Linked DNA regions of Homo sapiens. The protein of the gene in region 2 interacts with the protein of the main gene of each other region in a pairwise test. Each region holds a gene or a part of one and is shown on either strand. Other genes may lie near its edges.

Region 1 (8,028 bases), on a different chromosome or scaffold from region 2:
AAATAGAACAATTTTACAATACACTATAATAAAAGTTATGTGAATGTGGTCTCTCTGTGTCTCTCTAAATATCTTATTGTCCTATCCTCACCCTTCTTGTGGTGAAGAAGGCATACAGCAGGACAGCAAGAGATCTCGCCATGCTGCTCAGAACAGCATGCAATGGAAAACTTATCAATTGTTTATTTCTGGAATTTTCCATCCCACAGATATGGGGACACTACTGTTTACTAAGTTGAGAAGGGGGTTTTAAGCTTAGAGATCTAACCCAATGCTGGCAGTCACTGAACTCTGCTAATAAAGCTGCAGGCCCATTTGAGTCTTTGGACCTGTTCTGAACTGCAGGATCCTGGGGGTTGGGGGAGGTGGCAGAGAGATGACGACTTGCCACCTCCCGACAGGTATGAGTGCTTCAGGCCTGAAGAAGCAGGAGAGAAGCTTTGTGTAAGAGACAGCATTTCAGAGGGCCCGTGAAGGCCAGGGACTGGATTCTGAGGTTGAGGATACAAGCAAGGAGACCCCAGAAACAGGCCCAGAGATGGGCAGGGGCACAGTTCAGGGGACTTCTAAGAGAACAGTGAAAGGCAGGGGCAAGAGAGTTGGGGAGGAGCGAAAGGGAACCGGGTCTCAGAAAGCTATATTGGGCTTATTTAAATTTCAAAGATAACATACATTTCCAAACCAGACTGCTTTACTTTTCTCCTTAAAGACAGTGGGTGAGAGGCACTGTAAGACTGACTCACACACCCTAGAGAACTGATTTTACTTTCAAATTCTTATATATACCTCTGGAGGGTAAGACCCTACTAGAAGTGCCCACATTACACCTTCCTTCCCCAGAAGGGGGCATCTCTCGGCCCCTCTCCCAACCTACAAGGGACCGTGTATTTCTCTCTTTTCTTTTCTCTCTCTCTCGCTTTTTGAAAGTGGTACGCCCATGGCTCACTACAGCCTCACACTCCTGAGCTCAAGTGACCCTCCTGCCCCTGCCTCTGAAGTAGCTGGGACTATCAGCGAGAGCCGCTGTGCCCAGCCGTGCTCCTCAAATGACAGCAGTGATATACCTTTTGCAGGAGCCTCATCGTCTTCTGGTTCTCCGCCCTCAGGATGCTCTGGGAGCTTCATCTTTTTCTTCTTAGAATCTGTTTCAACTAAGTATTTGGAAAGATTTTTTTTAAAGAAGATTTTGCATTTACGCTAGCAGCTACCATTTAATGAGACCTTATGCGAGCTAGGCAAACTCCACGTATCATCTCATTTCTTCTCCAAGCTGCCCAGCCCCGGTTTATAAAACCCCAGGAGGGTTTTATCCTCCTCCATGCTGGAGATGGGATGAAAGGAGTTGAGAAGTGAGGTCATTTGCCTGGGCAGGGCCCACCTCTGCCTGGCCACAAAGCTTATGCTCGTTCCCTTACTTGGTTCAAAACATAAGGTCTAGCTAGGTGCGGTAGCTCATGCCTGTAACCCCAGCACTTTGGGAGGCCGAGGGGGGCGGATCACCAGAGGTCAGGAGTCCGAGACCAGCCAGGCTAACATGGCGAAACCCCATCTCTACTAAAAATACAAAAATTAGCTGGGTCTGGTGACACACGTCTGTAATCTCAGCTACTCAGGAGGCTGAGACAGAAGAATCGCTTGAACCTGGGAGGTGGAGGTTGCAGTGAGCTGAGATCGTGCCACTGCACTCCAGCCTGGGCAACAGAGCAAGACTCCGTCTCAAAAAAAACAAAAAAAAAAAAAACCACACACACACGCACACAAAACGCTAGGTCTAACAGGCTTAAATATCCCAAATTCACAGCTTTCCCGGTTTTCAGATGAATCCCAGAGCGTGAGCTAGCCACTTACCTTCCGAGTGCCTCCGCTTCCTCTTCCCTGCGCCCACGCGTGCCTCTTCCTCACTGGCGCTGTCCTTGCGCTGCTTCTTCTTCTTGCTCCTCTTCCCTGCAGAGCCATTGGCCTCAGGGACTTCCTCCCCACCAGCCTCAAGGTCAGCCTCCTGTCCCTTTTTGCGCTTCTTAGGCTTCTGATTCCTTGAGTTTTCCTGGTGGTTTTCTAACTTTAGTTCTTTCTTTTCTCTTTTCCTTTTCTTCTGCCGTTCTTCCTTTCTTTCTCTTTTATTCTTCTTCACCTCCCCTTGCTGTTCCACGGCGTCTTTCACTTTGGAGGCTGGAACCTTGGTGGAGATTTCTGCATGTGGATTTGCCACTGGGTGGAGTGGCCGTTGATCCTGTTCCTTATTGACTGGTTCCTTATCATTAAGCAAAAGCAAGAAACACATATTCATTTTAAATGTGTAAATAGAGTTGTCACGTTATTGCCTGGGCCTACTACATAAACTGTTCAAGAAAAACGGTTGGTTTAATCCCTTATCGTTTTATAACTGTGACCCCCACCAACAGCTAAAATGTAGCAGTAAATATACAAAATGGGAAACCACTTCCCCCAGTCCACACCCCTCTGTCTGCACAGAACAGACATTTTCATTCCACTGGAAAAGTGAAGAATCCTTATGTCGCTGAAGATAAGACCTTTCATTCCAGCTCACTATTCACCTTTTAGATAAGAGAAGAGTACTTAGGGGTGGTAGAAACCACTGGATGTTATGTGTCTGCAGACCTGGGTTCAAGCTCCAGTTCTATTAATTCCTAGTCAGGTGACTAAGGGCAAGTCATTTATCTTTTCCAAACCTATTTCCTCATCTGTAAAATGAAAGGTAGTAATACCTACCTCACACACGGACGGATGAAACGAGGAAAGATCCGTCATGTGCTTATTAGCATAACACATGCCCAATAAACCAGCCCATTGTGTGTGAAGAGTTTTGTAAATTATCAGCCTTAGAAAATGGTACTGTTATTATCATCATTATTCAGACTGGAAAGTTACCATTAGAAGAATGGTCACCATTCTCATCATTCTTTTTTTTTTTTTAATGGGGACAGGGGTCTTGCTTTGTTCTGTTGCACAGGCTGAAATGTAGTGGCACAATCTCAGCTCACTGCAACCTCCAGCTCCCAGACTCAGGCAACACGCCTGCCTCAGACTCCCAAGTAGCTGGGACCACAGGCGCAAGCTATCAAAACCGGAAAATTGTTTATTTTCTGTAGAGACGGGGTCACCATTCTTTACGTATGGAGGTGTCTCTCTAATGGTTACCCCTGTTAAATACATTACCTCATTTATGTATTTTTTTTGGGACAGAGTCTCACTGTCACCCAGGCTGGAGTGCAGTGGTGCAATCTCAGCTCACTGCAACCTCCACCTCCCAGATTCAAGTGATTCTCCTGTCTCAGCCTTCTGAGTAGCTGGGATTACAGGCATGCACCACCACACCTGGCTAATTTTTGTATTTTTAGTAGAGACAGGGTTTCACCATGTTGGCCAGGCTGATCTTGAACTCCCAACCTCAGGTGATCCGCCCGACCTGGCCTCCCAAAGTGGTGGGATTACAGGTGTGTGCCACAGCGCCAGGCCTTGCATTACCTTATTAAAATCAGCACATAGAGCCTACTTTAAACAGTGACATCAGCAAGTTCAGTCCCATTCCTTCCTGAACTCCCTCCCTGAGCCCCTTTCTCAAGAGATGACCTGGAGCAATTCATTGAACTGTTCCATGTTCCCTGATGCCTCTGGAGGGAAAGAGAGTGGCCAGTGGCTGCTTCCAGGTGTGAGAAACCACTGAGCTGATGCACCTGCAGGCGGGGGTTCAAATTCCGTCTCTGTTAGTCTAGCCAAAGGACAGGGTAAGTTACCTACAGTCTTCCTCCTTTGGGAGATTGTGGGTAGCAAGGACTATGTCCTCAAAACTGGACCAAATAAAAAAGGACAAGCTTTCACTAGAGTGCAAGGACTCAGGACTCAGACCTTAAGGCTCGATCCTTGGCTACAAGAGCAGCATTAGAAAATGGATACTGGGGAGGCTGAGGCAGGAGAATCACTTGAACCCGGAAGGTGGAGGTTGCAGTGAGCCAAGATCACGCCACTGCACTCCAGCCTGGGTGACAAGAATGAAACTCTGTCTCAAAAAAAAAAAAAAAGAAAACGGATACTGTAGGCCGGGTGCGGTGGCTCATGCTTGTAATCCCAGCACTTTGGGAGGCCGAGGTAGGGAGATCACCTGAGGTCAGGAGTTTGAGACCAGCCTGGCCAACATGGTGAAACCCTGTCTCTACTAAAAATACAACAATTAGCCAGGCGTGGTGGCAAGCGCCTGTAATCCTAGCTACTCGGGGGGCTGGGACAGGAGAATCACTTGAACCCAGGAGGCAGAGGTTGCTGTGAGCCAAGATCGTGCCACTGTACTCCAGCCTGGGTGACAGAGTGAGACTCCGTCTCAAAAGAAAAGAAAATGGATACTGATGTAACCACCTGGTTTTCTCAGTAGCAGTGGCTTAGCAGCATCAGGTTGTCAAGGCTCATGGGGTAAAGGGCAGAGGAGGATTTCAGAAATAGACTTAGGAAGAAGGGGACAAAGAAACTTCACATCTGTCCTACAATTCTGTCGATATCTTCTAGTAAAATATTATTATCATTATGATTTTTTGAGACTGAGTCTCGCTCTATCACCCAGGCTGGAGTGCAGTGGCACAATATCAGCTCACTGCAACCTCCGCCTCCCAGGTTCAAATGATTCTTGTGCCTCAACCTCCCGAGTAGCTGGGATTCTAGGCGCCTGCCACCACACCCAGCTAATTTTTGTATTTTTAGTAAAGACAGGGTTTCACCATGTTGGTCAGGCTGGTCTCAAACTCCTGACCTCAACTGATCTGCCTGCCTCAGCCTCCCAAAGTGCTGGGATTATAGGCATGAGCCACTGTGCCCGCCATAAAATATTATTTTAACCACTGAGAGCCTGAGACCCTGGCATCCCTTCTACACAATCCAGACCAGATTTTCAGCTGGTGCCTTGCCTCTTTGTCTAAACCAACTCCTCGGCCACAGGGAGAGAGGGAGGGAGGCACACATTTACCCATCTGGTAGCTGCTCAATAAATAGGTGAACCAATTCTTCCCCATCTTCTTTTTACCTCATTACACACTCTCCTCAAATGTGGTCTCCTCTGTGATGCCCTGACTCTTTCCTAATCGAGCACCTCCTTCAGTCCTGGCCTCCCAATGCCTCTGGCTTCTTCCCAGTGCTGATCAGGACCTGACATTACACCATGGACCCGCACGTGGTGCCTATCTCCCCCACTAGAACACAGCTCCAACCAGCCAGGACCTTGGCCTAATTACAGTTGCATCCACAGTGATCAGGTGAACTGTGATGGGGTAGAGGACAGAAAAGCATCCGACCTGACATCTGGCAGAGTTACAGGAGGATAAACAACCAAGGTACGGAGGACAAGGCCTCAGGACCCTCTGCTCTGCACTACAAACACAGGGTATGCTGGGAGGGCCGTGGTGCAAAGGCAGAGGTAAGGGATGACAAGCTGCGTTTCGCAGAGCTCAGGGTTTACCAGGGGCTGTTTACTCCTTATTTTATTTAATGTTTAATATGTTCACACTTCAAAAGGGAAACTGGAAAAAACTTTCTAAAACCCTGCAGTTGAAGCAATTTCAAATCTTTGATTCTTAGTTAAAACAGAAATAACCTTAAAAAATAGATGCCACATAAAGGCCAATCTAATGATCGGTTATACGGTTTCAAAGGGCCAATTTGTACCTTCTGAAAGAGACAAACGCTAGGTGTACTACCGAGATAAATTTTCATCTTGATGCCCACTTGTTGCCGAAAGTATTCTCTCTACATAAGTGAATCAACTCCCGATAATTTGATAAGAATGAAAGACCAGTGGGGTTCTGACCCCACTGTTTTTTGAAACTGATATTTACACAAAAATAAACAATGTAATCAACAATGTGGCTGAAAGATAGCAAACCAAGATTTTCTACATATATAGTCCACATTTAGGGTCTCTATTCAACCATTTTGACTAACAGGTGGCTGATTTAATTACTTGAAGGGAATTCTCCTTCTACCAGAAGGAAGGCGCTTCAAGCACACTGCTCATCTACCTTAACCGTAACCTTCAGAGGCTGCTGTGACCCCCTCACCCCTTATCCAGAGGAACACCTAGTCACTACGTCCTCACCCTGTTTTATTTTCCCTCATGCACCACCACCTGGGATACTTTAGATTTTTTTGTTCAGGTCCTGGCACAGATCAGACACTCAGTTAAGTATTAAATAAATGAATGAATATTACTATCCACATTTTTTTTAGATAAGGAAACTGAGGCTCAGAGGCTAAATAATGTGCCTAAGATCAAACGTCAGGCAAACTGCACAGCAGGGATTTGAACCAGGTCTGTCAGAAATCCAAAGCTCCTGTTCTTTCTTTCCCATGTATCTATCTCCCTGCCTGATTACTAAGCAAATCATTACATACTGGGCTGGCACCAGCATCAAACATTGGGATGAAACATCTTGCTCTTCACAATAAGGAAGTCTCTGCAGTGCATTCAGTTTCTTCCTTTCCATAAATGAAGGCACTAAGAGGTTCTCTAAAAAAGAAGGCTGGGCCAGGTGCGGAGGCTCATGCCTGTAATTCCAGCACTTTGGGAGGCCAACGCAGGCAGGTCACCTGAGGTCAGGAATTCGAGACCAGCCTGCTTAACATGGTGAAACTCTGTCTCTGCTAAAAAAAAAAAATACAAAAAATTAGCTGGGCATGATGGCTCGTGCCTACAGTCCCAGCTACTTGGGAGGCTGAGACACGAGAATTGCTTGAACCCAGAGGCAGAAGTTGCAGTGAGCCACGATCGCACCACTGCACTGCAGCCTGGGCAACAGAGTAAGACTCCATCTCAAAAAAATAAAAATAAAAAAGAAGGCTGCCTTGACTTCCAAAAATAAGAAATTCCCATTTCATTATTACTAATTATTTTTGCCACAATGCAAATCTAAAATCAGATCTGACTTACGCTGTTGGAAGCTTCAGAAAAGATATTCCACACCTGGTCCAGAATGGATTCATTATGAACTTTTAAACTGTTCTTCATCCAATTCTGTAAGAAAGAAAAAGAAAAAGAACTATTGATCCCACTTGGACAGGTACACACAAGCTCAGTCACTGATGGGCCACACGGCCCCCTCCATTCAAGAAAGTCAATTCATACCTGAAATTTTGCCTTTTTCCTGGGAACGTTGTCAAAAGCACTAATTTGCTCTAAAAGTTCTCTCACTTTGGGGCTGACATTGGGTCTCTTTATTAATTCACTAATTTTCTACAAAAAGGGAAGAAAAAAGAAAAACTATTAATAAACAACCAACATGAGTTTCATGAAAGCCAATTGAAAAAGTCCTTGCCATGGCTAAAGCGTTCACGTTTTAAGCCCAGATTCTGTATTTATGTCTATGCTTAAAAATATATAGGTTAACTTCTATTAACATAGTACTGGAGTCCTAGCCAGAGCAGTTAGGCAAGAAAACAAAATAAAAGGCATCCTAACTGCAAAGGATGAAGTAAAATTATCTCTGTTCACAGATGATGTGGTCTTATATGTCAAAAGTCCTAAAGAGTCCACACAAAAATTGTTAGAATAAACAAATCCAGCAAAGTTGCAGGATACAAAATCCACATTCAAAAATCAAGTTGCATTTTATATAACAACCAGAAAGAGAAATTAAGAAAACAATTCCATTTGCAACAGCATCAAAAAGAATAATCAGGAATAAACTTAACTGAAGAGGCAAAAGACTTGTTTACTGAAAACCAAAAAACACTGCTGAAAGAAATTAAAGTAGACACAAATAAATGAAAAACATTCCGTACTCATGGACTGGGAGACTTAAAGTTGTTAAGATGTTAATACTACCCAAGCAATCTACAGATTCAATACAATTCCTATCAAAATCCAATGTGTGTGTATATATACGTTTTTACAGAAACAGAAAAATCCATCCTAAAACTCACAGGGAATCTCAAAAGATACCAAATAGCCAAAACAATCTTGAAAAGAACAACAAAAATGCAGATCTCATATTTTCTGATTTCAAAACTTATTACAAAGCTGTAATAAGT
Region 2 (8,028 bases):
TTAAGCAAAGTAACACTGATCAATGTGAAAATAGAAATTTAAAAAACGTATCTACTAATATGTGTTTGAAAATGCTTACCCATATAAAATTTCCATTATTATACAAAGGCTTTCATGATGCAACTCCCTGGCTCTTAAATTTTAAAAAGTACAGAATAAAATTCTCAATTCTTTTTTTGACACTTTTTACTCTTGAGTTTGCCACTAAAGTAAAAGAGAGAAACATCCCAAACTGGTCATTTATGAAAACGTTAAGTTCAGTGTGAAACTTGCTTTAAAACTACAAATTATGTCAGACAAAATAAATATATATGCTCACATTTATAAAATTTTCCACAGTACTCATAGAAACAAGCTTCATAAAATTTATACTGAATACAATAAAAATCAGTTCTAATAAAGATTTAGCTATCTTCCTAAATAAAAATTTCTGTGTTTGAGGTATCACTGTAAGACATGCCAATATGGCACATTTGTAAAACAACCCAGGAGTCTATTCTAAAAATCACAACCAACTCAGCATCATCTCTGCAGACTTACTAACAGGCTGAACTAATCTCTTTATACAAGAAGTATTTTAATTATTACAAAAACAAAGGAGGCAGGTACTAGAAATTCTGCATTTCATAGAAGAGTAAAACTTTGTTAGAGATATTTTCATGATCATCTACCTGCAGACACCATTCATTTAAAAAGTCCTAGTCAAGACCATTAAGCAGCTGCATCTTCTACAACATTGAAAAAAAATCCCTAGAGATTTAAAAAACTGAAGAATTTCACTATCTTTAAAAGATATTATATTTTAGTACATAAAGCTATTAAATTTCTCTGTGTCAAGAGCAAAACATTACCCCTTACCTTGCTTCATCATTGGAAGGTGGACACCTGATCCAGCAATACTCATTAACTGCTAGGTAGATGACCCATGTTGATGGCAGTAAAGCCATTTTACAATGAACTTATGAAGTAGTAACACTAGCCAAACACACAGAGACACAAATACCAAAAATGATGTGTTTAGTATACACAAATAGCTATACTTGGGGCATGGCTATCAAGTAACAAGACTGATTTAATACTTTACAGTTACAGCACATTAAAAATATATTGCCAGAGGGATAATGGTCCCAAATACGAAAAATGTCTATATGGAAAAGGCTGTGATTTATTGCAAAGCATAATATATAGCAAATTCCAAGGAAGGGCAAACACGTTTTAAAAACAAATTTTTAAATTTAACGGCTTAAGCCAAAGTCTCAGTTACTTTCTGGAGAATTCAGAACTATTAGGTGTAGAAGAATGCTTTTCCTTTTTTCTCTTCTTTTTTTCCTTTTTGTGATGTTTCCCTTTTTTTGATTTACTCTTTTTTTCTTTTTTCTTTTCTTTCTTCTGATATTTTTGTTTCTTTTGTTTTGAAGTGTCCTCTTCAGTGGAACTGGATGAGTAAGACCTATGGATAATAATACATACTGACTGAGAATTGCATTTATGACTGATAGATAAATTTAAGTGGGATTTGAACTGCCTTAAATTCTTCTTGGAGTAAGGTAGGGAGTATAAACATAAACTTAAAAAATGCTTCATATATTTGCATTCCCTTAAAACGATGAATTTAGAATTTTTGCTGCTTGGTCACAGAAACCAACAAAACTAGTATCTATTCCACTCAATACTAATGTAATGAGTTTTAAAGTCAATAAGGATGAAATTATTTTTCTGTGATTTTTGGTTTTTCATGCAGTCATATCATTCAAAATCCTAAAAGGCAAACAAAGGGGCATTCACCAAGCCTTATTATATTCACTTGTGTATACAATAACTTCGCATATTTTCTTAAAAGTGTCTCAAAAGTTGCAATTCTCTATTTTAAAGGGCTATAATTGTACGTTCATATGAATGAATGAAAGCTGAAAGTTAGCAAAATAAAAGCACTTTTGGTAATTCTTCTGATTTTTCAAGTACTTGATCCCTCTAGACGGAGAGTGATACAGATGAATACTTGCATTACAAAATAATTTTCATTAGTTACAAAAGGATGCTTTTATGCTATATATAAATGAAAAAGGATGGGTTATCATTGTGCTTTTGAAAAATATTACTCTAATACTAAATTGAAAAAATTGGTTCAATTCCTTCCTCTAATATTCATAAAAAAAAGGAAAAGAAAAAGAAAAAAACAGAAAACCCTATCTTTTAAGATCTTACTTAAAGAGATGTGCAACATTCTACCTATACTCAAACTCAAAATATGAGTGACAAGACAGAAACTGAGTTAATTTAAAATGTAAACAAAGGTATCTAAAGAGTTAGTTTAGTGATCTAAATATTAGGAGTTAAAACTCAAACTAAGAAAATCTGAGACGGATATAAAGGAGGTGCCAATGTAAATTCAGGAGACTACAGGGCTCCAAGGCTATTTTGTGTCTGTATAGTGTGTGAATTCCTTGACTGCCTTCCTCCTTTAGTGACTCCGAGTTTTCCCTTATTTTTGTAATGTTGTGTTCCTTTTTCCTCCTTGTTTGTCTACTTACTTAGACTTCCAATCATCTGTTAAAGCTTATTTTCTCATGTATTCTCCTGCACCCTTGCCTCTTCAGTTGTTATTCTCAAATCTTGTCTATTTTCCTCTTTTAAAGACCCTGTTTGACTTGACCTCTGGATTCTGACTAAAGCTTCTTCCCTGCCTGCACTTTTTTCTTTAGCTTTTTGGTCCTGAAGTTTTTTTTTTTGTTTGTTTCTTTTTTTTTTTTTTTTTTCTGAGACAGAGTTTCACTCTTGTTGCCCAGGCTGGAGTGCAATGGCGTGATCTCGGCTCACTGCAACCTCCGCTCCCCCGAGTTCAAGCAATTCTCCTGCCTCAGCCTCCCAAGTAGCTGGGATTACAGGTACCCACCTGTAATCCACCAGCTAATTTTTTTTGTATTTTTAGTAGAGATGGGGTTTCACTGTGTTGGCCAGGCTGGTCTCAAACTCCAGACCTCAGGTGATCGACCCACCTTAGCCTCCCAAAGTGCTGGGATTATAGGAGTGAGCCACCGTGCCTGGCCTGAAGTCTCCTTTTTAAGGCAAAATTTCAGGCTGTGGCATAGCAACACTTTCAGGGGGCACTATCTCTGCTAAGTGTGCACAGAAAAGTTAATTTAATTTCAGGTTTGTGATGCTCAAGGTAAAGAGGCCCAAATAAATAATCTGTTACTATAAAAAATATTTGGGAGGCTGAGGCAGGCGGATCACAAGGTCAGGAGATTGAGACCATCCTGGCTAACACGGTGAAACCCTGTCTGTACTAAAAATACAAAAAAATTAGTCGGGCATGGTGGTGGGCACCTGTAGTCCCAGCTACTGGGGAGGCTGAGGCAGGAGAATGGAGTGAACCCGGGAGGCGGAGCTTGAAGTGAGCTGAGACTGTGCCACTGGACTCCAGCCTGGGCAACAGAGCGAGACTCTGTCTCAAAAAAAAAAAAAAAAAAGAAATATACAGATGTACTTCAACTTATGATGGAGTTACGCCTTGATAAATCTATCTGAAGCTGAAAATACACAAAATACAGCTAACCTACTGAACATCATAGCTTAACGTGGCTGCCCTTAAATATGCTCAGAACACTTACATTAGCCTCTAGTTGGGCAAAATCATCTAACACAAAGCCTATTTTATAATAAAGCATTGAATATCTCATGTAATTTATTGAATACTGTCCTGAAAGTGAAAAATAGAATGGTTGTATGGGTACTTGAAGTACATTTCTACTGCACCATCATAAAGTTGAAAGATCATATCAAACCACATAAATTGGGAACTATCTGTATTAGAATTTGGAAGACTATCAGATATCATTTCCTGTGAGCAATCCATCTTCCTGTGCTAGAATAAATGATTTAATAATACATTAACAGAAAACCCTGAGCTCTAAATTCCTATTTGTTTTTATATTAAAGATTATTAGTTAACTCCTAACGCTTGAAAGTGGGCTACTTTTCCAATTTATAAGATACCTGAAATATTAAAATACATGTATTAAATGCTCTATAAAAACTACAAAGTGGCAGCCCCTGGTTTCTACAACCTATTCTGTATGAGAACTGGGTCTAAACTAGAAATAATTATGGTTAAGTGCTTTTAAAAAATGCCTGTATGTGCAAATTTATGCTAGTATGAATGAAACTGCACGCATTAACAAGAGAAGTGGCCACTTACTACTTTCAATAACTTCTTTAACCAGTTAGTTTTTAAAAGAGTTAATAGTAAAAATGCACAGGTGGCCGAAGACTGGAAGGAAGTTGTGATGCTAAAAATTCCTTCAGGTCTTTCACAACCCTCATCAGCCACCATATATATATATATATATGAAACTGTCAGGCTAAATACATATAAATACAAAGGTGTGTGTATGTGCATATAATTACATATATATATATATATATATATATTTTTTTTTTTTTGGTGGGCGGGGGGCAGATAGGGTCTTGCTGTGTTGCCCAGGCTGGAGTACAGTGGTGTGATCATGTCTCCTGGGCTCAAGCAATCCTCTCACCTCAGCCTTCCACATAGCTGGGAACACAGGTACATGCCACCACACTTGGATAATTTTTCTTTTACTTTTTGCAGAGATGAGGTCTCCCTATGTTGCCCAAGCCTGTCTCAAACTTCTGGGCTCAAGCCATTCTCCTGCCTTGACCTCTCAAAGTGCTGGGATTATAGGCATGAGCCATCGCACCTGGACAGCATGACAAGTTCTATTAAATTCTATTAATAAGTTAATTTATTAGCCATGGTAATATTACAAGAATACAAATATTTTAGTCAATTTCATGTATATGAAGACAAAATATATATTAAGAGTTTAAACTTAAGCTCAATGAAAAGCTTAGTTGTTGAAGAAAAAATATTAAATTAACTATTATACACAAAAAATAAAATTTTATAATCCATCCTAAACTCATAGGCCTGCTTTGTTTTTTAAAATGTTGTTCAAAAAATACCTTTTCCTTTTTTTTTTCAATTTGATTTTTTCTTTGCTTTTTTCTTTCTTCTTTTCCTCTTCTTCATTTATTCCTGTGGGGGAGAGGTGAGAAGAAAAAAATCTGGTTAATATATGATTCTATATATTAATATGGCATGTATATATGTTAAAATTTTAGCTGTTGGTGAATTTCACTGGTTAGGATAATTTTTGTAATAATTTTCCCCTTTCTTAATTATCTTTATCCATTAAAAAACTCATAAAAGTATTAAATGTTTTTTATAAACATTTCAAATACTAAGTCCATCAAGTAAAAAAATGCAAGTACCCCACCTCTAATTCCCATAGGAAATCAAGGCCAGTGGTTTGATGGGTATTGTTTGGCCCTTAAAAAGCAGAACACTACAACAGTGCACAGTTTTAAAATTTTATTTTGCAACAAAATTAGGATCATGCAATATGTATTATTCTCTAACTTGTTTTTTAAATACACTATTTGGTGTGTATTCTTGTAGGCATTCTTTATATAAAACCAAATACACACACATTTACTCATACACACATAGTTGCATATAAGTTCCAAGTATTTTTTGCCTTTGAAAAATGTACTGTCACATATATTTTGCAGCTTTTTTTTCACTTAACATAGCAGATATTTATCTTTGTCATTAAATATATATCATTATTAAACACAGAAGTGTTCCCATTAACCATATTTTATCAATTTCTACTTTCATTGTTAGAAACAATAAGCAATGGAAATCTTTGTACATATAAGAAGTATTTCTGGGTGACAGAACTTGTGTATATTTAAAGAAAAAGCAGGCTGGGCGCGGTGGCTCATGCCTGTAATCCCAGCACTTTGGGAGGCGAGGCGGGTGGATCATGAGGTCAGAAATTCGAGACTAGGCTGGACAACATGGTGAAACCCCATTTCTACTAAAAATACAAAAAATTAGCCAGGCGTGGCGGCAGGAGCCTGTACTCCCAGCTACTCGGGAGGAAGCCTTGGGGTTATTTGGCAAGGTAAAGAATAGACATCAGTTTGTCTCATAAAATCCTAGGAGATTTTTATTGACCACGCTTTCATTTATTCAACAAATATTTACTAAATGCTTATGTGTCAAGTACTGTGCTATGTACTGGGTCTTTGCTGTGCATGATCCTTGCCCACAGGGAACTTATAGTTAAGTGGTGAGAAAGAAAATTAACAGGCAAAGATAGCATTCTAAGTGAACAGCAAGGGTAGTGCATGTCAGGAAGAGGAAATTAGTGCCAAAGCTCCAAGGCAAAAAGAGTTTGGTGCGTTCTAGAAACTAAGAAGAGGTTGTTGCGGATAGAAGGGGAGGGGCAACTATGAATAAGAATGAACATGAATGAGAACAGATGAACAATATCATAAATACATGTAGAATACCATGAAATGAGAGGCCAGAGAGGTAAGCAGGAACTTGCTTATTCAAGACCATGAAGGCAACAGTAAGGATTTTACATTCTAAGTGAGACGGACTGTGTGATCGGCAGACTTACAAGGTAAATGAATTGGAAAGGGCTAAGGGGAAAAGGCAGGGGAATAATAAAGTAACTGGAGTAGTGCAGGCCAGAGATGGTGTCCTGAGGTGATATGTGTGTGCGAAGGATGATGGAACGAAAGGAATCAAGGATGACCACCAGGTTTTTAGCAGTGCCACTGATTAAAATGTGGATTGGTGGGAAGTGGGTAGGAGCCTGAAGGACAATTGTGGGTGGGAAGTAAAGATTTCAATTTTAGACATTTGAGATCTAAAAGACCTGTTTGACATCCAAGTAGGTAACTGAAGTAGGTAGTTTGGTATGTGATTCTGAAGTTTAGAGATTAGTCTGGACACACACACTGATCAGCTTATAGATAGTATTTAAAACTATGGGGAATAAATAAAATCATTTAGTAAGAGAATGATGAGAAAAAAATACAGGGAGTAAAGCCCAGGAAGATTATCTGCATCTTGAGGAACTCCAACATTTACGGGCTGAGAAGAGCAAGAAGAAGAGCTGTCAAAAAGACTGACAAAGAAGGGCCACGGGGTTGGAAGAATACCAGAACCAAGAAGTAGGAATGTTGAAGAGAGGGGCTACCTATCAAATAGTACCTAAAGGCCAAGTAGAATGTGGATATAAAAACGCCAAATAAATTTGGCAAAAAGTATTTAAAGACCTTGACAAGTGGACTGAAAAACAAATGGAAATAAAAAGGTAGAGAAAGTAAGAATAAATAACTTTGATGAGAAGTTTAGCTAGAAAGCAGCAGAGAAATGGAATGTTAGCTACAGGGATGCAAAGGATCTAGGGAAGAACAATGGGAAAAACGAAAAAAAATTGATGCTGATTGAAATGATGACGCAGAGAGGGGATAACTGAAGGAATAAAATTCTTGAAGAAAAGAATTCATAGCAATTATGGTAGGACATGCCTTCGAAAGGAAGGACAGTCCTTCCATTTTAACTGAAGGAAAGAAAAGAAAGATGGATATATATATATGCAAATTTGTGGATTCAGTAATTGGAAGCTAAGATGCTCTCATTTGGTGTCTTCTATTTTGTCAATGAAAGAGGGAGTCATTAGCCGAAGGAGGAAGGGAGAAGTGGGAAAGGTATAAAATAAGTATGTGGAGTGAACTTGCAAAAATAAATGCAAGCTGAGATTAGGGATCATGAATTTATAGAAACACCAGTCTGCCTCTTCACCTTTGCACTGCTGTAAGGGGATCAGCATAGAGAAGGCAAAGAGGTTCATCCATATTTGGGGTTTTGCTAGATAAGGGTAAAAGATAAAGAAAGGAGTAAGGCAGTTACAGATATTTGCAAAAGAATAATGGTGATAACTATGATGGAATCTAAGCTAGATAAGGGGAAGACTAACTGAATGAAAGTGGTGGGTCAATAGCCTGAGGGTCTTTACATTAAATAAACTGGAAAGATAAGAACTTGGAGTAAAAAGCGTACAGTGTATGCCATTAATTTTGGAGGCTGAGAACAAGGTCCAGGGTGCAATCATGGAAATGTGTGGCTAAGGTGAAGAGACAGAA
Region 3 (8,028 bases), on a different chromosome or scaffold from region 2:
GCCCAACTTGACCAACTTTCTAAGAGAAACAAGAAATGTGGTGGTTTATGTGAAATCTGCCTTGTGAAATGTTGGCAATGAATGAAAAAAGATAGGCCGGACATGGTGGCTTACGCCTGTAATCCGAGCACTTTGGGTGGCCGAGGCAGGCAGACCGCTATAGCTCAGGAGTTTGAGACCTGCCTGAACAACATAGTGAGACCCCCAACTCTACAAAAAATACAAAAATCAGCTGGGCGTAGTGGTGGGCACCTGTAGTCTCAGGTCCTCGGGAGGCTGAGGCAGGAGAATTTATTGAGCCCAGGTAGTCAAGGTTGTGGTGAGCCGAGATCCTGCCACTGCACTCCAGCCTGGGTGATGGAGCAAGATTGTCTCAAAAAAAAAAAAAAAAAAAGTAAAAGAAAAGAAGAAAATATATATATATATACACACACACACACACACACACACACACACACATATATTAACTCTTCATGGGCTGAGGTGTAGGTGTGTTTTATGTGTGGAGGTGTTTTTAGTGTTGGGTTAATCCTAGAAAGTCAACACAAATTTGGAACAGGAGCCAGGGTTCACTGGTTAAGCAGGGGATTGCCCAACCTCCCGGGAACATTTCACCTGGATCTTGGATGCGACCTCAGAGTCAGCACCTGAAGCTCCCTGGACACTGGGCCCGCCCCCAGGCCTCTCCCCTCTTTGCCTACTCTTGCTCCCCTGAGTTCCTCCAGCCTCAAACTGGTCAGCTGCAAGCTGGTATCTCCAGAGCCCCACCTCCACGATCTCATGCCCAATGCCCATTCCCACCAGGACGTCCACCAGGCAGTTCATGTTCAACAGCGCCCCCGCCAGGCTTTCCTGCCACAGTGAATGGCAGCTCTGTCCGGTCAGTTGCTCAGTTGCTGGAGGTGGGGAGAACAAACCTAAAACCCCACTTTTTTTTTTTTTTTGAGATGGAGTCTCGCTCTGTCGCCCAGGCTGGAGTGCAGTGGTGTGATCTCAGCTCACCTCAACCTCTGCCTCCTGGGTTCATGAGATTGTCCTGCCTCAGCCTCATAAGAAGCTGGGATTACAGGCGCCCACCACCACGCCTGGCTAATTTTTGTATTTTTAGTAGAGACGGAGTTTCACCATGTTGGCCAGGCTGGTCTCGAACTCCTGACCTCATGATCTGCCCGCCTTAGCCTCCCAAAGTGCTGGGATTACAAAGACATGAGCCACCGTGCCTGGCAAGGACAGGGATTTTCTTCTGTTGTGTGTTCATAGCTGTATGCGCAGGGCTCCGCATGTTGCTGGTGCTATATAACTATTTGTTGAGTTAATTAATTAAAAAGTGCTATGCGGAGAATAAAGATGTTATGGAGAGTGGATGTTTGTGTGCAGCTGTTGCATAAGCAAGGGTGAGGGAAAGGCTTTGATGTGTGTTCTTCTCCTTCGTTTTTTTTTAGATAGAGTCTTGCTCTGTTGCCCAGGCTGGAGTGCAGTGGTGCAATCTCAGCTCACTGCAACCTCCATCTCCCAGGTTCCAGCAATTCTCCTGCCTCAGCCTCACGAGGAATTGGGATTACAGGTGCTCACCACCATGCCCAGCTAATTTTTTGTGTATTTTTAGTAGAGACGGGGTCTCACCATATTGGACAGGCTGGTCTTGAACTCCTGATGAGTGATCCACCCGCCTTGGCATCCCAAAGTGCTGGGATTACAGGTGTGAGCCACCGTGACCAACCCTTCTCCTTCCTTTTTTTTTTCTTTTTTTTTTTTTGAGACGGAGTCTCGCTCTATTGCCCAGGCTGGAGTGCAGTGATGCAATCTCGGCTCACTGCAACCTCCGCCTCCCGGGTTCACGCCATTCTCCTGCCTCAGCCTCCCAAGTAGCTGGGACTACAGGAGCCCGCCACCGCGCCCAGCTAATTTTTTGTATTTTTAGTAGAGACGGGGTTTCACCGCGTTAGCCAAGATGGTCTCGATCTCCTGACCTCGTGATCCGCCGGCCTCGGCCTCCCAAAGTGCTGGGATTACAGGCATGAGGTGCCGCGCCCGGCCAAAGGCTCAACTTTTTAAAGAAAAAAGGACGAATCAAGAGAGGCGGTGATTACAAAAGTTGTTCATCAGGAATTGTCATTGGTTTACAGACATCACATTGATTAGTGATTGGCTATACATGTTTGAACTATAGAGTGTGTGACACTCTAGAGCTACTTGGTATCAGGTCGTCTAGAGTCCAGAAACCAAGTAGCCTCAAAAGGTAATTATTGGATGGGTGCAGTAGCTCATGCCTGTAATCCCAGCTTGAGGCAAGGAGTTCGAGACCAGCCTGAGCAGCATAGAAAGACCCTGTCTCTACAAAAAAGTTAAAAATTAGTCAGTCATAGTGGTGCACCCCTGTGGTCCCAGCTGCTCAGGAGGCTGATACAAGAGGATCACTTGAGCCCAGGGGTTCGAGGCTGCTGTGAGCTATGATGGTACTCCAGCCTGGGCAACAGAGTGAGTCCCTGTCTCAAAAAGTAATTAAAATACATTTTTATAAAGTCCCTCTGAGCCAGGTGCGGTGGCTCACACCTGTAATCCCAGGAGTTTGAAAGGCTGAGGCAGGAGAATCACTTGAGCCCAAGAGTTTGAGACCAGCCTGGACAACATAGTGAAACCCCACCTCTATTAAAAAATAAAAAGGCCAGGCACAGTGGCTCATGCCTGTAATCCCAGCACTTTGGGAGGCTGAGGTGGGTGGATCACGGGGTCAGGAGTTCAAGACCAGCCTGGCCAACATGGTGAAACCTCGTCTCTACTAAAAATACAAAAAAATTAGCCAGGCGTGGTGGTGAGTGCCTATAATCCCAGCCACTAGGGAGGCTGAGGCAGAGAATTGCTTAAACCTGGGAGGCAGAGGTTGCAGTGAGCCGAGATTGTGCCACTGTACTCCAGCCTGGGTGACAGAGTAAGACTCTGTCTCAAAAAATAAATTAATTAATTTTTAAAAAAGTTGTTAAAAAGCCCCTCTGGGCCTGATCCTGATCATCTAAAGGGGCTCTCCTTTCTCAGATAAAAAAGTTTGTTTTCTTTCTCATTCCCTCCCCAGCTCTCCCCCAATTCTTGTTTAAGACAAGGACTCGCTCTGTTGCCCAGGCTGGAGTGCAGTGGCACAATCACGGCTCACTGCAGCCTCCAGCTCCCAGGTTGAAGTGATCCTCTCACCTCAGCCTCCCGTGTAGCTGGGATTACAGGAGCACCACCATACTCAGCTAATTTTTTTTTTTTTTCTGAGAAAGAGTTTCACTCTGTCACCCAGGCTGGAGTGTAGTGGCACAATCTCAGCTCACTGCAACCTCCACCTCCCAGGTTCAAGCAATTCTACCGCCTCAGCCTCTTGAGTAGCTGGGATTACAGGCACCTGCCACCACGCACAGCTAATTTTTGTATTTTTAGTAGAGATGGGGTTTCACCATGTTGGACTCCTGACCTCAAGTGATCTGTCCGCCTTGGCCTCCCAAAGTGCCAGGATTACAGGCATGAGCTACCAGGCCTGGCTTTTTTTTTTTTTTTTTTTTTTGTGAGACGGAGTTTCCGCTCTTATTGCCCAGGCTGGAGTGCAATGGCACGATCTCAGCTCACTGCAACCTCTGCCTCCCAGGTTCAAGTGATTCTCCTGCCTCAGCCTCCTGAGTAGCTGGGATTATAGGCATGTGCCACCACACCCGGCTAATTTTGTATTTTTAATAGAGATGGGGTTTCTCCATGTTGGTCAGGCTGGTCTCAAACTCCCGACCTCAGGTGATCCGCCTGCCTCGGCCTCCCAAAGTGCTGGGATTACAGGCGTAAGCCACCATGCCTGGACTCCATGCTCTTTTTAAAAATTAATTAATGAATTATTTTTTTTTTGAGACAAGGTCTCACTCTGTCACCTAGGCTGGAGTGCAGTTGCACGATCTCAGCTCACTGCAACCTCCGCCTCCTGGGCTCAAGCTGTGATACCCTAACCTTGTTTTAACCTGAATTGACTCTCCCTTAGGTGAGCGAGCCAGACAGACTCCATCCTGGCTCCTTCACTTGCAGCCCCTTAACCCAACCCCCCTTTCTTCAAGGACTTAACTTGTGCAAGCTGACTCCCAGCACATCAAAGAATGCAATTACTGATAAGATACTGTGGCAAGTTATATCCGCAGTTCCCAGGCAGTCGCCCGATTAATAGTACCCTAAGCCCCCGCGTTTCTGTCTGGTTGATAGCGCCCAACGTCCAGCGTCTATCACCTTGGGATGTGTTTAAAGCCCCTGCACCTGGAACTGTCTGCTTTCCTGTAACCATTTATCTTTCTAACTTTTTTTGCCTGCTTTACTTCTGTAAGATTGTTTTAACTAGACTCCCCCCTCCCCTTTCTAAACCAAAGTATAAAAGAAAATCTAGCCCCTTCTTCGGGGCCGAGAGAATTTTGAGCGCTAGCCGTCTCTGGGCTGCCGGCTAATAAAGGACTCCTGATCTTGTCTCAGAGTGTGGCGTTTCTCTATAACTCGCTCGGTTACAACAAAGCAATCCTCCCGCCTCAGCCTCCCAAGTACCTGAGGCGCACCACCATGCTCAGGTAATTTCCGTATTTTTTGTAGAGACGAGGGTTTCACTATGTTGCCCAGGCTAGTCTCGAATTCCTGGGCTTAAGGGATCCTCTTGCCTCGGCCTCCCAAAGTGCTGGGATTACAGCTGTGAGCTACTGGACCTGGCCTATTTATTTATTTATTTATTTATTTATTTATTTTTGAGACAGCATCTTGCAATGTTGCCCAGGCTGTATGCAGTGGTGTGTACATAGCTCATGGCAGCCTTGACTTCCTGGGCTCAAACGATCCTCCCACCTCAGCCACCTGAGTAGCTGGGACTACAAGGGCACCACTACGCCTAATTTTTTAAACTTTTTGTAGAGATGGGGGGTTTCGCTGTATTGCCCCAGCTGTCTTGAACTCCTGACCTCAAGTGAACCTCCCACAAGGACCTCCCAAAGCACTGGGATTAAAGGTGTGAGCCACTGTGTCTGGCCCCAATATGTTCTTAACATCCCCTCCTACCACCACCAGTCTGGAAGGTTCTAGAAGGTTCCTAAGACTGGGCTATGTAGCTACAAAGGTAGATTTGCTGGATGTAGAGATTCGCAGTCATTTATCTTCCTTTTGGAATAAGGAGATTAAACTAAATAACAGAAAATAGATGGCCAGGCGTGGTGACTCAAGTCTGTAATCCCAGCACTTTGGAAGGCCAAGGCAGGCAGATCACTTGCAGTCAGAAGCATAGCTACCAAAAATTATGAAATTTAGCTGGTTTTGTGGCCCGCACCTGTAATCCCAGTTACTCAGGAGGCTGAGGCACGAGAATCGCTTGAACCCAGGAGGTGGAGGTTGCAGTGAGCTGAGATCACACCACTGTCCTCCAGCCTGGGCGACAGAGAGAGACCCTGTCTCCAACAAACAAACAAATAAAAAGAACGGAAAACATTTTGCTCTTAGACAAAATGCATCACACAATCCACCTATCAGGAGGCTGCTCGGGCCTGGCGGCAGGGTCGCCAGCCCTCACCTTGGTCAAGGTGTACGTCCCCAGTAGGTTCAGCTCCAGCAGCTGGCGGAATCCCTGGGCAGAGGTCTCCTCAGGCCTCTGTGGGGGTGGGTCTAAAGTGGGGGGTGAGAGAGAGAGGAAAAGTGACGGGGGCTGGACACAGTTGCCCACGCCTGTAATCCCAGCACTTTGGGAGGCTGAGGCAGGCGGATCATGAGGTCAGGAGTTCAAGACCAACCTGGCTGACAGGGCAAAACCCTGTCTCTACGAAAAATACAAAAATTAGCTGGGTGTGGTGGCGGGTGCCTATATTCCCAGCTACTCAGGAGGCTGAGGCAGGAGAATTGCTTGAACCTGGGAGGTGCAGGTTGCAGTGAGCCTAGATCGAGCCACTGCACTCCAGCCTGGGCGACAGAGTGAGACCCCATCTCAGAAAAAAAAAAAAAAAAAAAGCCGGGTGCAGTGGCTCATGCCTGTAATCCCAGCATTTGGGGAGGCCGAGGTGGGCAGATCATCTGAGGTCAGGAGTTCAAGACCAGCCTGGCTAACATGATGAACCCCATCTCTACTAAAAATATAAAAATTAGCCTGGCGTGCTGGTGGGCGCCTGTAATCCCAGCTACTTGGGAGGCTGAGGCAGGAGAATCGCTTGAACCCAAGAGGCAGAGGTTGCAGTGAGCTGAGATCACACCACTGCACTCCAGCCTGGACGACAGAGTGCGACTCCATCTGAAAAAAAAAGAAAAGAAAGAAGAGAAGAGAAGAAAAAAGAAAAGAAAAGAAGAGAGACATGGCCAAGTGAGGGCACAGCCCTGGGGACACACAGGAGGGATGGAACAGGGCCACAGTTTCAGCACAGGCCTGGGGGGCTTCCATTGCTTTACTCTCCTGTCCAAGTGGCTAGAAAGAGGTATGAGGCAGGATGAGGGAATCAGGGGCAGGGAGTGGGGAAACTGACGTGCAGGAAACAGAGTTGGGGGGCAGGAGGTGGAGAATGGCCCTGGGGTCTCACAACTCACGGTGGCCAGCGTTGTTGACAACACAATCCAGGCGGCCAAATCGGCGGATGGTCTCAGAAACCAGGGTCTGAGGAGAAAGGAAATGTCCTTTGTTTTTTTTTTTTGGAGACGGTGTCTCCCTCTTGTCACTCAGGCTGGAGTGCATTGGCACGATCTTGGCTCACTGCAACTTCAGCCTCCTGCGTTCAAGCAACTCTCCTACCTCAGCCTCCCAAGTAGCTGGGATTACAGGCGACTGCCACCACGCCCGGCTAATTTTTGTACTTTTTAGTAGAGACAGGGATTCACTAGGTTAGCCAGGCTGGTCTCAAACTCCTGAGCTCAAGTGATCCACCCGCCTCAGCCTCCCAAAGTGCTGGAATTACAGGTACCACGCCCAGCCCAGGAAATGTCCTTTGAATGAGCAGTAGATGGGGTGTCCAGCCATAAAGAAGACAGGGCTCCCAAATGCAAGGCAGGAGGGGGAAGCTGAACTCCCAGGTCAGGGGACAAGAGCTAGAGGAAGAGGGGACTCCGAGATCAGCAGACACAGCAGGCAAGCAGGAGACAGGAAGGAGACAGGGGGCTGGTCAGAGCCACACTGCAGTCGTCACACCCAGGGTCAGGGGGTGGGGCAGGGGGGTGACAAGGATTCAGAGAGCGCGTAGGGGACAGTTGCCCAAGGGGGGCAGATAACAGAGAGATACTGATTAAAAGGAAGAAATAGGAACCCAGAAATAATGGAGAAAAAATCAGTTACATACAGGCCACGTGCAGTGGCTCACACCTGTAATCCCAACACTTTGGGAGGCTGAGGTGGGCGGATCACCTGAGGTCAGGAGTTCGAGACCAGCCTGGCCAACATGGTGAAACCCTGTCTCTACTAAAACTACAAAAATTAGCCAGACACGGTGGCTCATGCTTGTAATCCCAGCACTTTGGGAGGCTGAGGCGGGCGGATCATCTGAGGTTGGGAGTTCGAGACCAGCCTGACCAACATGGAGAAACACCGTCTCTACTAAAAATACAAAATTAGCCAGGTGTGGTGGCACATGCCTGAAATCTCAGCTACTCGGGAGGCTGAGAGAGGAGAATCACTTGAAGCTGGGAGGCAGAGGTTGCGGTGAGCCGAGATCACACCATTGCACTCCAGCCTGGGCAACAGGAGCGAAACTCTGTCTTAAAAAAAAAAAAAATTAGCCGGGCATGGTGGCGCACACCTGTAATCCCAGCTACTCGGGAGGCTGAGATAGGAGAATGGCTTGAACTCGGTAGGCTGAGGTTGCAGTGAGCCGAGATCACACCACTGCACTCCAGCCTCAGTGACACTTACAAAAAAAAGAGACAGAAAAATCAGTTCCAGTTGACCCACTTTGAGGGACTTATTCATTTCCATCCACATGTTAAATGTGCTAAGAGCCTTGGAGAGGTGTGACAGAAGGAACATGTGACCTGCCCATCAGTCACAGAAGACCTTGTGTGTGGAGTGACACTGGGTGG
Region 4 (7,570 bases), about 20 Mb from region 2:
AAAACAAACAAAACTTTTCAGAGACTTCACAACTTTGTCAAGGGAAGGTTCTGTTTACCATCAGCTGGGAGGGGACAAACAGCAGCTTTGTGAAAATATGTTTGTTGTGTTTAGTGCCAAGATGCAAAGTTCAGTTTCCAGGAATTTGTGGTGATTTATTGTATGTTTTAAACAATCTTATATAGAATTCTTTTCTTGTTACAAAAGATCCTTTTTATCATCTTGGCCATATTTCCTTCCTAATAACAGATCATTGAGTCTGTTTGAAAGTGAGGGAACAGAAAATTAACCTTAGTTTCAAACTTTGAAAAAAACTTGTTTAAGCAACCTATGCTTTGAAATATCACAATACTTTATGGAAAATTAATATTAGAACGCAGAAACCCGGATCAAATTATAAATCTACTTTTCTAGAAAGTCTCATCAGTTTTCTAGAGGTGAACTTATAAATTCAGATTCTATTAAAAAATTGGGGTATTCTGAAAATATGGGGTATTCATTACTTTTTGATTGTGCTCATCTCGGAAGCATTGATAAAATATCCCCCTTTGCCAAGTATATATCAATATTTATTTTAGCTAACCCAGCTGGTACTTAATAATTCAACACTATTTTATTACTTTTCTCTGGTTAATCTATTGCAGCAAAGATATAATTGCTTTTCCATAACTAAACCCCTAACTCTTTTTATCATTTCTACTCTGCCATCTTAGACATATTAGAATGATGAATGGTCAATGGTAAGAAAGGGAGTAGGGAGGAAGAAAAAGAATATAAACAGGACAGGTGTTGCAAAAATTAGGGTAATAGCCTAAGGTCTATCACAGGAGTTCCAAATTCTGGTCTACCATGGAGTGACCTGGGAATCAGCTTATTCATCTATAAAATACATGTGTTGGATTCAGTTATAGCTAAGATTCCCACTGGCTCTGAAGCAATGCACACCACTATCTGTGGGATAACACCTCTTTTCTGTTCACTTGAAGCTCCTGGTTTAAAAACAATAAGATATCACTCCTTCATTCACCCAAATGTGAGTGATTATTAGCATCATTTCTAGCTGCAGCCTGGGAAGTGCACAAGTCCTAATGATGACTTAAAACTGGCATGTTCTGTGTCCAAAAGGGAAAAATGGGCTGTGACACATACTCATAAGGTCTGCACCACAGGGTGAAAAAATGAGGCCTGCATATGTCTAAATTTTTGAACAGCGTGGCTGACTTTTGACCTTACTTAGCATTACTTGAAGCAGCTTACTGACGCTGCCAATAACATCATACATAATAGGGCACACATCTTGTAACTGAACCATAGGTAGTGCTGAGCAACATAAAGAATCCAGGCAATACATATGTAAAATGTAAACTGCTCAAACACAATAGCTACTGAAGGATCTGCTAGTACATACACTGATTGCTTCTCTGAGGTTCAAGAGCCAGGTTTTAGGATTCTTCAATGGCTGCTGCCATGGTCTTGTTTTAAAAAGCCTCAATCATTTCTCAAGACATCACACGTAACAAAAGGCTGCATCTATTTCTCTCAATACAGAGCTAGCCTGATAGTAGCAGATATGTTTAAGGGCATAGAAATAAAGTATGCCTTCCAGAAGTTGGATAAAAGAGAAAAACAGCCTTTGAGAATTAGTAGGTACCACTCTAATCTGAAGCTTGTACTGTCCTTTTCAATCCTAGCAAAGAAACAATTAATAAAGGAACCCATTAAGACCTGATTATTGCAGCTAAAAAAGGAAGGTAGAATTTCAGTCCTTTGAAGTAACTGAGAATGATTCAGGCCTCATTACAGAGATATAATCTACATTCATACATTTATGTTAGTGATTCAAATCTATTGGGAGAGATTGAATTCCGTTAAATAGTGCATCTTTCCTGTGGAACTTTTCTCAGGCTTTCTCGGGCTAACCTAAGAGGTGACCTAACAATGCAAAGTAGTCGGGTATTTAGGGATTCAACTGTGCTGTAAAAGAAAGGCTGCACAGAAAAGAAAAAGAAGAATGAGATATAATCTAAAAAGCTATGTCAGCTTTTCCTTTGGGCTGTTTTGTAAATGCCCTCTTGTCATCACGCTGTACAGAAGAGCAGCGAAGGGGCTCTAGAACTTTCAAACACTGCACCTGCTGCAACCAGATTTTAATATGAAAGTTTAAAGACATCTTTTCCCTCATTTTAGACAGAAAAAACAAAGAAACTCCTAGCTAAAAGATCTGAATGGCTTCTTCTACTGGAACATAAAGTTGGTAGATGTGTGTATGAGAGAGAGAGGGAGAAAGAGAGACTAGCTTTGGATTGGAGGGGCACATGTCTAGGGTGAGTTTAACAAAAATTCTTAAACCCCAAAGTGGCATCAATAGTGTTGGTTCCTATTGTACAGAAACCCCAAAATAATAACTTCCTGTGTTTTGTAACTTTTCACAGCAGAATCTTTATTGTATGGTTTCATCAAACATAATTTTTAAAAAATGTAGTTTTAATTAGTTGTAAAATCAAACATTTGGATTCTTCTGGACCATTGGGCTGAAACCCAAATCCATGGGAAACACTACACTGTCTTTCAGGCATTTGTCCTCTCAGGTATAAAACTGTGAACTAAAACATTGAAATTCGCACTGTTGGTTCATTTTTCAGTATCCTAAAGAAAAAGACTCGCTTGATGTGTGCTCTTTATTTGCTTAACTTTCCAATTAATATCTACAGAAATTAGAGCTAATTATATTAAACTTTAAAAACCTATTGTAATGTTCACCACATTGTTGAACTCTTCTAAATAAGCACTGCATGAGTTATAACTAATGCAATTAAAATCCTGATTCTAGTATTAAATGATTCTATTTCAAAGGATTTGAATACACAGAAAAATATAAGAACATTCATGTAAACTCATTTTTCAAGTCACTAAATACTTAATTGAGCAATCATTCCTAATGCTCATCTCTAACGCTAATTCTTTTTTCTTTGCATTTCCTCTGGTTCACAACCAATATGGAGGTCAAACGCACATCATAGGGATCCTAGCTTGTGTGAACACAGACTCTTCTAATTAGTTCCCTCCAAATTACAGTTGCTGTTGTTAAACTCCCAGTTCACCTTGAAGTGTTTCTCTGTCTTACATTGGCAGCCTAATTTTAGGTTGAAACATATGAAATTACCACTTTTGTAGGTACAAAACCTTAAAATGTTGGCAATTTTGTGGGCTTCAACAAAACACAAATGTCTAACTGTCCTATGTGACATAGATAGTTCATTCCAGTACATGTTTAGGCATTCCTTCTAGTTAAACGTTCCCTAGTTTAGAGTCATTCTTAAAGAAGTGGTCCTCTAGGAGCTGTTTCTTATTCAGATTGGAATGGATTATCACAGTATTTCCTTTTTTGTGCCTCTTAACTCTTGGCAAAGGTTTCTTAGCCTTGGACTTAGTTCTGTCAATACCTGGGCTGTGAGCTAGTTTCTGCGAGCAAGGGAGGAGTTGGGGTGGCCTGAAAGAGTGTGAAAAGGAGAGGAGGACTAGTAGTGCAGTGATATTGTAAAACAGAGCCCTTTAAACATTAAATGTGAAGATAGAAAAAAAAAAAACCTCCCCTTTATGACAAAGTGCAAAGGAAATTGCATAAAAAAGAAAACAGACAGCAGGCTATTCAGCCAAATTATATGGTAAAATCTTTGCGATCGCCATAAAGTGCGTTTGCTTTGAAGTGCACGCATGATTCAGTGAAGGGCTCATGTTAGCAATTAGAAATCGGTTATTTGGGTCCCTGATTTCATTTGCGCCGAGAGAGGCAACTTTTAAGGGTGACGATAAATCTCCCTGAGCTTAAAAGGCAGAGAGGGCCAAAGTGTGAACTTTTTACTTCAGCAACGGAAGCGAGAAATCAGTGATTCATTAAAGAGGAGACCTCCTTGGAAGCTGGCAGCAGAGGAGGAAAGGACACTAATTATGTCTTCCTTTTCTGTGCTCGTTCTGACCAGTTTATAACCTGCTGCTTTGGACGGTTTAAAATCCTCAGCATCTTCTGCTTTCTCCCAGCCCTCTCCTCTTCTGGGAGTGAGAAGGGAGGAAAAGTCAGCCAAGCACCAGGCTCCAGGTGGCTCTCAAGTACTTCACTGCCAAAAGAAATGGGGGTGGGGGGAGGAGATCCTACGCTGGAAAGCAAGTGAGAAAGGGGCTCCCCAGAAGGGATTGGTTCAGGCTGGAAGACAGCAAAATTCGGAAAGCGGGAAGATACCGTCAGCGCCGTGGCCCGCGCTGCAAGCATAGGACGCTTTAGCAGCGAATTAGACAGAGCTAGAGGCGCCGGCGGAGGCTGCGGCCGCAACAGCCGCGGCGAGGAAGGGACCTGGCAGCCCCCGAGCTCGGTGCAAAGGCATCGCGCTCTCTCCTCGCTCCCCTGCTCCCCCACCCCCTTCTCTGCCCCTTTCACCCTCCCTCTCCCTGGCGTTCCCAGCAGCCTAGGGTTTCAGATGTCCCACCGCCGGTTGACCCCCTCCCCCCTCTTCTCCACCCCTGCAAATGAGGTTTGACCAGCAGAGGCAGAGCCCACCTCTGGCTTAGAATCACTGACATTTAGACTCCAGGCTTCAACCTGTTTACAAGCGGACTTTCCAAAGGAAGGGGGTGGGAGATAGGGCCATACAAAACACCAGCCGCCGTCCCCCAAAACAAAAAGTGACTTTCGGCAGCCTTCAAATCGGCAGGCACCACTAAAAACAGAAAGGAAGAGAGGGAAGAAAACAACGGCGACTGGGCAGCTGCCTCCACTTCTGACAACTCCAAAGGGATATACTTGTAGAAGTGGCTCGCAGGCTGGGGCTCCGCAGAGAGAGACCAGAAGGTGCCAACCGCAGAGGGGTGCAGATATCTCCCCCTATTCCCCACCCCACCTCCCTTGGGTTTTGTTCACCGTGCTGTCATCTGTTTTTCAGACCTTTTTGGCATCTAACATGGTGAAGAAAGGAGTAAAGAAGAGAACAAAGTAACTCCTGGGGGAGCGAAGAGCGCTGGTGACCAACACCACCAACGCCACCACCAGCTCCTGCTGCTGCGGCCACCCACGTCCACCATTTACCGGGAGGCTCCAGAGGCGTAGGCAGCGGATCCGAGAAAGGAGCGAGGGGAGTCAGCCGGCTTTTCCGAGGAGTTATGGATGTTGGTGCATTCACTTCTGGCCAGATCCGCGCCCAGAGGGAGCTAACCAGCAGCCACCACCTCGAGCTCTCTCCTTGCCTTGCATCGGGTCTTACCCTTCCAGTATGTTCCTTCTGATGAGACAATTTCCAGTGCCGAGAGTTTCAGTACAATGTGGAAATGGATACTGACACATTGTGCCTCAGCCTTTCCCCACCTGCCCGGCTGCTGCTGCTGCTGCTTTTTGTTGCTGTTCTTGGTGTCTTCCGTCCCTGTCACCTGCCAAGCCCTTGGTCAGGACATGGTGTCACCAGAGGCCACCAACTCTTCTTCCTCCTCCTTCTCCTCTCCTTCCAGCGCGGGAAGGCATGTGCGGAGCTACAATCACCTTCAAGGAGATGTCCGCTGGAGAAAGCTATTCTCTTTCACCAAGTACTTTCTCAAGATTGAGAAGAACGGGAAGGTCAGCGGGACCAAGAAGGAGAACTGCCCGTACAGTAAGTAACAAATGCATGCTCCCCTCCTTCCAATTATCCACCCCCAGCCCACACGGGGGGGAAAAATCTGTTCCAGATGTGGCCAGCTAAATATTTACGTCCCCAACCCCTGTAAAATGATTAAGTGGAATACTTTCACACTAATTCACCCCCCAACCCCCGTGTATACATTGTGCTGCCGCATCCCCTCCCCTAAGCGCGCTCCCTTCACATCCCCCACCCCTTGCCGCTCTACCCACCCCTTCCCTCCAGCCTGTCACTAGCCGGACCACGCAGGGCGCTCAAGAGAGTTGTTGCAGTGCAAAGATGCCCCTTTCTCTCTCCACCGCCTTTCCCACCTCATCCAAAGAGCAATTTTTCCTTCCTTCTGGAAATGGCTCAAGTAAACACATTTTGTTTCTTTTCCCTGGCAATCTTGTTAAGAGTTTTGGGACAGGCTCCTCAAGCTGAAAATAATTATCCGCTGTCAATTATAGGGGCTTTGTGGGAACTTTATTTAAGAAAGAAAAGTCAATTCCACTCTCTCCCCACCCCCATCCCTTTACCCCACTACCTCTAGATATGAGCGAAAAGCATTTTTCTGGTTTTGATTTTTGTTTTGTTTTGTTTTGTTTTGGGTCCCTTATGTTAGTTTGAGTGATTGCAGTCCATGAAGTTAGCTTTTCAGGCACCACCGCTGCTATTTGTCTTCTGCCTGCCTTCCCTCTTGGTAACATGATGCTCATGTCTGCATTGTCAATAGCGTATGCACTGCTTTGTGGTGTCCTGTTGTACTGTTTCTTCTGAAACCTCTCATATTGCAGAGCCATACTACTACAGCATTGTAAACATCTGGGACTGGATTCACACAGACCTCACACAAATTTCATTGTCATTCTTTTATTTTCAAAGTAAAAGTCATAAGTCTGTTTCCATGGCTATATTTTATCCCACAGTGTGACATTTTCTCCTCAGCGTAAATTATGCCTGGGATCCCTACATTTTGGTCTTGCCTTTTCCCTCTCTCTTTCCTTCTTTCTCTCTTTCCCTTCTTTCTTTCTTGCAGGGGTGTGGGCTGGTTGGGGGAAGAGAACTAGAAGAAGAGGGGTGGATATTGTGTCTCTTCTTGAATCAACCCAGCAAACCCAGATTACTCTGTTGACTTCCTTTCTCAGATACTTTCAAGTGGTGAGACTTATTCATCCACTATTGATTGTTATGTGAAAGGAACCCAAGGCTCTGTAATGGCACACTGAAGACAGTAGACAATGATGTTTAAACATCTTTAGTGACCATTTGGCATTATCTCAATGGTAAATTCCAAGTCACCTTTAAAGGGGACATTTTTGTGTTAGTTGTTCAGGAATTCTAAGCATAGATTGTCTTGTCAGTTAACTTAAATACGTCAGTCAAACATTTCAAGATTCCTTGGTTTAGAAAGTACCAGGTACTAATGGGAATGACAGTTGACCAGAATTTAGCATTTTATTTTTGAATACAAATTTACAAGAATTAAGAATTTAGTTTTCTTCTGTGGGGATGCACACACATTCAACATTAACTTCTGTTTCTCCTCAGCCACTGGTTCTATTTACTAAAATTCACAATATGTTTATAAGTAATAAAAATACGTGTAGAGGTGCTTTTAAAGTGTTTCATTTTATGTTTCATACTAAAGATATTAAGTACCACATTATCTGATTCAAAGAAAGTAGCTGAAATAATGTCATAATGATGACAATTATTTTTGCTTAAAAATCATTTGTTACCCGAATTCATTAGATCCTATGTATATAACCTTTAAGGTTTTTCGATTAAAAATTTAAAAACTTTATTTACTTCTAAAATAAAATAGTTGTGGTGTCATTCAGTTAGCAGGATGGGGAAGAAGCTATCCAAACATTGGGCTGGACAGAGTGAGCTGGGAATTAACAACAACAACAAAAAATTCTGATGGA

Evidence for each region.
Region 1: the proteins of SREK1IP1 (region 2) and LYAR interact in binary tests that used the Homo sapiens proteins (3 or more experiments, as listed by UniProt).
Region 3: the proteins of SREK1IP1 (region 2) and HSD17B14 interact in binary tests that used the Homo sapiens proteins (3 or more experiments, as listed by UniProt).
Region 4: the proteins of SREK1IP1 (region 2) and FGF10 interact in binary tests that used the Homo sapiens proteins (3 or more experiments, as listed by UniProt).

What each region holds. Positions count from the first base shown.
Region 1 is NC_000004.12:4,272,519-4,280,546, forward strand, and holds part of LYAR (cell growth-regulating nucleolar protein), read right to left. Parts: intron 7,232-8,028; coding exon 7,124-7,231; intron 7,013-7,123; coding exon 6,929-7,012; intron 2,252-6,928; coding exon 1,849-2,251; intron 1,152-1,848; coding exon 1,065-1,151; intron 1-1,064. UniProt on the Homo sapiens protein: Plays a role in the maintenance of the appropriate processing of 47S/45S pre-rRNA to 32S/30S pre-rRNAs and their subsequent processing to produce 18S and 28S rRNAs. Also acts at the level of transcription regulation.
Region 2 is NC_000005.10:64,723,124-64,731,151, forward strand, and holds part of SREK1IP1 (protein SREK1IP1), read right to left. Parts: intron 5,057-8,028; coding exon 4,984-5,056; intron 1,451-4,983; coding exon 1,261-1,450; 3' UTR 1-1,260. UniProt on the Homo sapiens protein: Possible splicing regulator involved in the control of cellular survival.
Region 3 is NC_000019.10:48,826,117-48,834,144, forward strand, and holds part of HSD17B14 (L-fucose dehydrogenase), read right to left. Parts: intron 6,617-8,028; coding exon 6,550-6,616; intron 5,644-6,549; coding exon 5,552-5,643; intron 1-5,551. UniProt on the Homo sapiens protein: Catalyzes the NAD(+)-dependent oxidation of L-fucose, yielding L-fucono-1,5-lactone, which rapidly converts spontaneously to L-fucone-1,4-lactone. Can also act on D-arabinose and L-galactose, with lower catalytic efficiency. Does not use NADPH.
Region 4 is NC_000005.10:44,386,421-44,393,990, reverse strand, and holds the start of FGF10 (fibroblast growth factor 10 precursor), read left to right. Parts: upstream 1-4,570; 5' UTR 4,571-5,308; coding exon 5,309-5,633; intron 5,634-7,570. UniProt on the Homo sapiens protein: Plays an important role in the regulation of embryonic development, cell proliferation and cell differentiation. Required for normal branching morphogenesis. May play a role in wound healing.